Linked DNA regions of Homo sapiens. The protein of the gene in region 1 interacts with the protein of each later gene in a pairwise test. Each region holds a gene or a part of one and is shown on either strand. Other genes may lie near its edges.

Region 1 (2,485 bases):
TAGGAATGCTTATATTTGGGCAAAAGAAAAGGGGAAAAGAAAGAAAAAGTTTTGTCTCCACCATGTATCAGGGTCATTGCTACACTACTTATATTGCCTGTGTATTTTCTGTAGGCCTCTTAATAAAATTTTAAATAAAAGTAATTATTTTTATTCCCATTTGGCAGTTGCAGAAACTGAGGTTCATCTAAGTTGAGGACATTTTCCATGGTCATATAATTAGGAAAAGACTCAGTCAGGAAATTAACCAATCTGTTTTCCAGGGAAAGCTATTTCTACTACAGAGCCTCTGGAACATGGAGGACATTGTACTGATTATCAATTTGTGGCCCCTCAGCATCTAATTCATCCTTCAGTATATTCTCTGTGCTGATAGATGGGATTCCTTTAAGTATTTCTCCTTCACTGTGAGCATGGCTTCAAGTTTTCTCAGGAGAGGATGCAGCAGGGACATTGCAGGAGGAAACAGAGCTCCTGCATTTTTGGGTGTGGCACAGAAGGGCAGTAGAAGGTATCAGCAGTGTGGGTTAAGGATATCCAATGAAGCTCCACCTCAGTTTTGGGTCCAGGATATGCTGGAAATTATTATTCAGTAGAAAGCACCGATGTACAGCATAAACATCAGAGTGGTCCAATTATTATGGATATCCAATTGTTAATTCGGTTCTTAAACACAAACAAACCTGTGTTTAAGAACAGAATTTAACAACTGGACATCAACAACAAAGTTGTGAACCAAGGAATTCCCCTCACTTTAAATGGAAAAATCAAAAGTTTATTCTATAAATTTTAAATGACACATATTACATAACTGACCTGTCAGACGTTTAACAAAAATTTTTTTTTCAAGCAAGAGAAGGTCATAGACTGCCTAGAAAAGGGGGGAATGGTCAAACTTTTCTTCAGAGAGAAGGAGAGGGTTTCAAGAAGTTGAGGTAGCACGTGGAAATACCCAATTCTTTGTCCAAAAACCATGATTTAGTAATTTTTAGTGACTATGATAAGAAAAGAACACCAAGGTATTAGGAAAGAATAAGAAGAAATGATGATGATGATGGTATTAAGAGCAGTGAGAACTCCTTATTAAATAGATAATTCTCAAGACCTTACAAGAACAGAAAGATAAACATACATTTATAGGTCAAACATATTTTGGTGATGTGTTATGTCATGGCTATGAAATGAAACTATGGAAAACAAAATTATGGTTGTATAAGCTTGTGTGTTTAGAACTTGTATATTTGTTTTCTTTTCAGGCATAAAAATATTCCTAGGGAAGTCATAAGCAAATTATGAATTCCAAAGAAAGTAGATGTACACAGAATGAGCTCATTTTAGGCAGATGATTATAAAATGAGCAAATAGAGCCCATGTGAGGATGACCCATGCATCCCTGGAAGTATATAAAGGTCTTAGAAGAGTAGAGGACAGTCACACTTCAGAAATATCCTCCTACACCTCAACTGAAATCTAACCTCCTGAAATCATGTGTTGCAACTACTACAGAAACTGCTGTGGGGGCTGTGGATATGGCTCTGGCTGGAGTTCCGGCTGTGGATATGGTTGTGGCTATGGCTGTGGATACGGCTCTGGCTGTAGATATGGCTCTGGCTATGGAACTGGCTGTGGCTATGGCTGTGGATACGGCTCTGGCTGTGGATATGGCTGTGGATACAGCTCTAGCTGCTGTGGCTACCGACCACTTTGCTACAGAAGATGCTATTCCTCTTGCTACTAATCATCACTACAGGTCATCCTTGGCTTTGCAATGACCTCTCCAAGATCAAGTTCAATTGAAATCTCCCCTACCCATTATCTTCACATCTAAGTAAAGGTTGACTATGGTCACCTGACTATCTGAATGCATATAAGAGAAGCTGTTGGCAGTGGATGGAGACTGAGTAGTTTCATCACATCGCTGAAGAGAGGAGATTTTATTCTGATTAATTTTCTAGTGTAATTTTCTAATGTAAGCTCTTACATCTTTTTCTGAATCTTTGTGCCATGACTATTTGCTGAAACACAAGAGGACTATATAATTGGAGCATACTAAAATGGAAAAAAAATAGAATTTTCTTAATAAAAGGCCTTACTCACTAAGAAGTCTGGTCTCCTTAATGTCTCCTTAATTTGAGGTTTTGTGGCTTCCTCAAAAGCTGTGTGACCACAACTTTAAATAAGACAACGTTATTTTATTGGTTGAATCCAAATACTTGTGTTTTACATATTTCTTAATTCCTTGTATGTTAACTCTTTACATTTTTATTTAAACATGAACACAAATATTAAGCTCAAAATTTTAAAATATGCATGAAAAAAGAATTAGAATAGAACCAAGAATGAGACAGGGGATCTACTCATGAGGTTAATGCACTAGTTCAGCAATGACTATCTTGTTTGAGCTTAAGTCAAGGTAATTAAGAGGCAACAATATTAATTTAATGTTAATAGCTTTTGAAATATGTAAAACAAGAAATCTTAGACT
Region 2 (3,823 bases), on another chromosome or scaffold:
GGGAGAGGGAGGGAGGTGCATTATGAAGAAACAGGCCTGAGGGCCAAGCTTCCGGAAGACCTTGGTGGTGTCCCCATGCTCCTACCCCAGCAGCTGCCCAGGGACTGCCTTACAAGCACCCAGCCGACTCTCTTTAGACATGTCAACCACCCCAAGGGAGGGTAGCCATGATTTCCATTTTGCTGATGAGGAAACTGAGGCTCAGGTGAAGTGACTTGCTCAAGGTCACACGGTTGGTTGCTAAGTCACAGAGCCTGGATGCAGATCCTGTCTGCCTGACAGGTTCAAGAAGGAGGCAGAGGGCATCCCCTACCCCCGACTTCCTCCTCCCTTCCAGCTGGGCACCTGTGCTCTCCACCAGGGGATACTCGGTCACGTCTGTGGAGGTCACAACCTTGACCACCTCCTCCAGCGGCGTGTCCTTGGCCAGTGTGGTGATGCTGTGGTTCATGAAGTGCTCCACCCTCACATGGTGGGAGCTGCAGGCAGAGGGGCTCCCATCAGGTCCCGGAGTCGGGGATGTCAGACCCAGGCCAGCAAGGGGATCTGAGGGGAGCTTTGCTTGAACCAGGGACCCACGGCTCTGGAGTGTGAGCAGGGCTGGAGAGGTTCCTGGAATGAGGGACTCCTAGAACCCACAGTGGGAGGAAACCTGGGGACCACATTACTGATGGCCCAGTTCCAAATCCCCAACCCCCTGGTCCCCCATGTCCCCCAGACCAGCTTCACTTGGGTCTTGTCCCACCTTGGACAGAGCTGAGTGTGAGATGACGGAAAACCAGTATCTGCCAGGTGGTCAGTGACTGGCCATCCATTAATGAATAATGAGATTGGAGTACAGACCCAGCAGCCTTCCCTGGATAATTCCATTTGATTATAAAAGTGTATGTCACCCCCAAGGAAAAACTTGGAAGGTTGAAAATCACTGGTATAAACAGCCCCATTTTCCCGATGGGGAAACAGGTTCAGAGCAAGGCAGCAGCTTGTTTGTGTTTGGAGCGGGGCCTCCGATTCGGACTCTCAGAGCCTCTTTGGTCTGCTTTTCTGGCGCCAGAAGCTGCTCTGGTCCTATCTGGTTGAGTGAGGACTTCAAAGCCCATTTCCATTCTCGTTCCACCTCCTGCTCCCAAAGTCCCAGCAAGGACAGCAGGAGTGGGGAGAGGGGAGGAGACCTCTCGGATCTGGTGCTGACTCTCTGTGTCACCTGGAGCAAGACACGGCACCTCTCTGAGCTCTGGTTTCCTCAATCTGTACACGGGGCAATACTCATCCTCCTGCTGTGAAGCCCAGCTGACCCCTAGACAGACACTGAGGCCTCAAGGCCAAGGACTTGCCCAAGGTCACCCAGGGCACTGGGGAGAGTGGAGATGAGAGCACAGCTGTGTGTCAGCCCCTCCCAGCCCCCATGTCGGAGGTCAGCTGCGGTGGTGTTTCTTTTTGGAGGTGCCCTCCACCCCCAGCCAAGCCCAAACACTGTGACCCCCTTCAGTCAGCCTGAGGTGGGCACCACTCACCCGATGTTGCGGCCCAGAATCCGTGGCAGGTATGGCAGCTTCTTGACAATGATGGTGCCATCATAGAAGGAGGGCTGGCAGCTCTGTGCAATGGCGTTGGCTGCCAGCACCGCCATCAGCACGGGCAGTGCATGCACTATCTGGCCGGTCAGCTCAAAGGCCAGCAGCGCCGTGGAGATGGTGTGGGTCACAGCCCCTGAGAAGGCTGCAGCCCCTGCCGGGGCAGAGCCACACAGGTCGGCTCAGGCCAGGAGGCAGGGGCCAGCCTGATGTGAGGGAATAACTAGCCTGGCTGCTGCCGGGGGCTAGGGTGGGAATTGTAAGAGGCCACAGCCTGGGCACTGTGGGAAGTGCCCCAAGGCCTGGGCTTGGTGAGAGGAGAGGGATAAGGGAGGCCGCAGGGCTGGGGACAGGAGCCACGAGGAAGTGATGGGCCCCGGGGAATGGTGGGGCTCAGGAGGGACAGACCCCCATGAGGGGTAGGGGGTTCACTGGAGGACTCAGTGACTGCTCCGTGCCCTGGGGAACCACCAGCCAATTCTCCAGGTCCAGCCCAGCCCCACGACATTGCCCACCCAGCAGGGCCGTGACCCACTCACCTGCCAGAGCATACCCCCCGGGCATGATGGGATTGGTAACCCCTCCAGTCACAATGCCCTCAGGGAAGGCGACGGCAAGAGCCTCTCCCAAGAGGCGCCCGATGGCAGCTCCTGGCCACAGACTTAGGGTGAGGGGGAGCCAGGCTGACCCGGCCCCCACAGCCCTCCATCCCTGAGGACCATCCTTAGTACCACCCGGGAAGAGGGTGAACCAGGATGCATGGCCCTGCCCCAAGAACCCCAAAACTCTCAGAACCTCAGGACCCCAGACTCACCAAGGATAAAGATGGGCATGAAGTACCCGGCAGGCATGGGGATGGTGGTGGCCAGAATCAGCATCCAGAACTGCAGGAAGGGGGAGCCCAGGGCAGAGGTTAGAGGCCGCTGGGCAAGGTGTGGACAAGAGAAGACAGGACAGGGGACAGGGGAGTGTCCTAGATAGAAAGAGGGTGCCAGCCATGCACCCACTGCCAGAGTCTGGCATTAGGGGAGGGTCCTCACCCTGAGAAATGCCCACTGTATGCCTGGCACTGTGCCAGGTACATTCCTTTCTTCCTTCTCTGCCTTCCCAGTAACCACCCCATTTTAAAGATGGGAAGACTGAGGTCCAGAGACCTGAAGCCACTTATCCAGGACCATGCAGTGGGCAGGGGGCACAGAAGGAAGTGTGGGTGAGAGGCCTGGGCTCCATGCCACCAGGTGCAGGGAGGCACCCCCGCCCCTCCCCACCAGAGCTGGTCCTGGCTCTGTGCACACCTGGGGGTCAGGGGGCCCACCTTCATAACCAGGAAGAAGGCAAGGGTCCCAAAGATGGTGAACCGCGGGTGGTACCATTCCCACCAAAGGTGCTGGGGGTCGAGCTCCTCGGGCCAGGGTGGGCTGGAGTTCTGGGTCATCAGCGCCCAGGAGTGGTTGTCGAACAGCGAGTCCAGATGCTGCTTCATGGACAGCTGTGGCGGGGCAGGTGGGAACTGGACATGAGGGGCCCCCCCCAGCGGCAGACCCCAGCCTCCCCCGCACCGCCTGACCCCGCCTGGAATCCTCCCCTGCCACTTCCCAGCGGGGGGCCTTGGGCAGGGCTCTGACCTCCCAGAGCCATGGTCTCCTTATCTGCAGAATGATGCCCAGGTGTCACCCTGGTGGGGTGCTGAGGGTATTACGTGAGACACATGCAAAGGGGAAAACAAATGGGGGTTCCCACTCCTGCCACCCCCGCTCAGGACCCCTTACCCGAGAAGCTAGGAAGTGGCCCACACCAGGCGGGTAGGTGATGGAGGCGAGAAGCAAGGTGGCCAGAGCGGAGTACACAGGCTTGCTGTGGGGGGTGGGTGAGCTCTAGGGCTGGCCCTCCCTTTCCTACATCCCGAGGAGAGGGAAGTAGGACCTGGTCCAGGCAGCAGCAGAGCTCCCCACCTGGGGGCTGATACCGAGGCAAGGACTGGTGAGGAGGAAGGGCGGGAGCAGGGAACATGGCCCCCTCCAGCGGGTAGAACCCGTGGGGTGAGCCCCTCAACTGGGTATGACTGAGGGCAGAGGAATCACGCAGGAGATTGAGAGGAGAATTGGGGCAGAGGCAGGCTAGGAGGGAGGAGACAGTGGGCCGGGCCGGGGCGGGCCATGTGCATCTCCGGGGCAGGAGGGCTGGCCAATGCCAAGGCCAACGCCAGGGGCCACACAAGGTTTGAAGGGGCACAGGGTTTGAGGCTCAGT

Evidence for each region.
Region 2: the proteins of KRTAP21-2 (region 1) and CLCNKA interact in binary tests that used the Homo sapiens proteins (3 or more experiments, as listed by UniProt).

The regions. Positions count from the first base shown.
Region 1 is NC_000021.9:30,746,204-30,748,688, reverse strand, and holds KRTAP21-2 (keratin-associated protein 21-2), read left to right. Parts: upstream 1-1,429; 5' UTR 1,430-1,486; coding exon 1,487-1,738; 3' UTR 1,739-1,895; downstream 1,896-2,485. UniProt on the Homo sapiens protein: In the hair cortex, hair keratin intermediate filaments are embedded in an interfilamentous matrix, consisting of hair keratin-associated proteins (KRTAP), which are essential for the formation of a rigid and resistant hair shaft through their extensive disulfide bond cross-linking with abundant cysteine residues of hair keratins.
Region 2 is NC_000001.11:16,028,366-16,032,188, reverse strand, and holds part of CLCNKA (chloride channel protein ClC-Ka), read right to left. Parts: intron 3,429-3,823; coding exon 3,344-3,428; intron 3,064-3,343; coding exon 2,890-3,063; intron 2,459-2,889; coding exon 2,389-2,458; intron 2,225-2,388; coding exon 2,114-2,224; intron 1,729-2,113; coding exon 1,515-1,728; intron 480-1,514; coding exon 346-479; intron 1-345. UniProt on the Homo sapiens protein: Anion-selective channel permeable to small monovalent anions with ion selectivity for chloride > bromide > nitrate > iodide. Forms a homodimeric channel where each subunit has its own ion conduction pathway.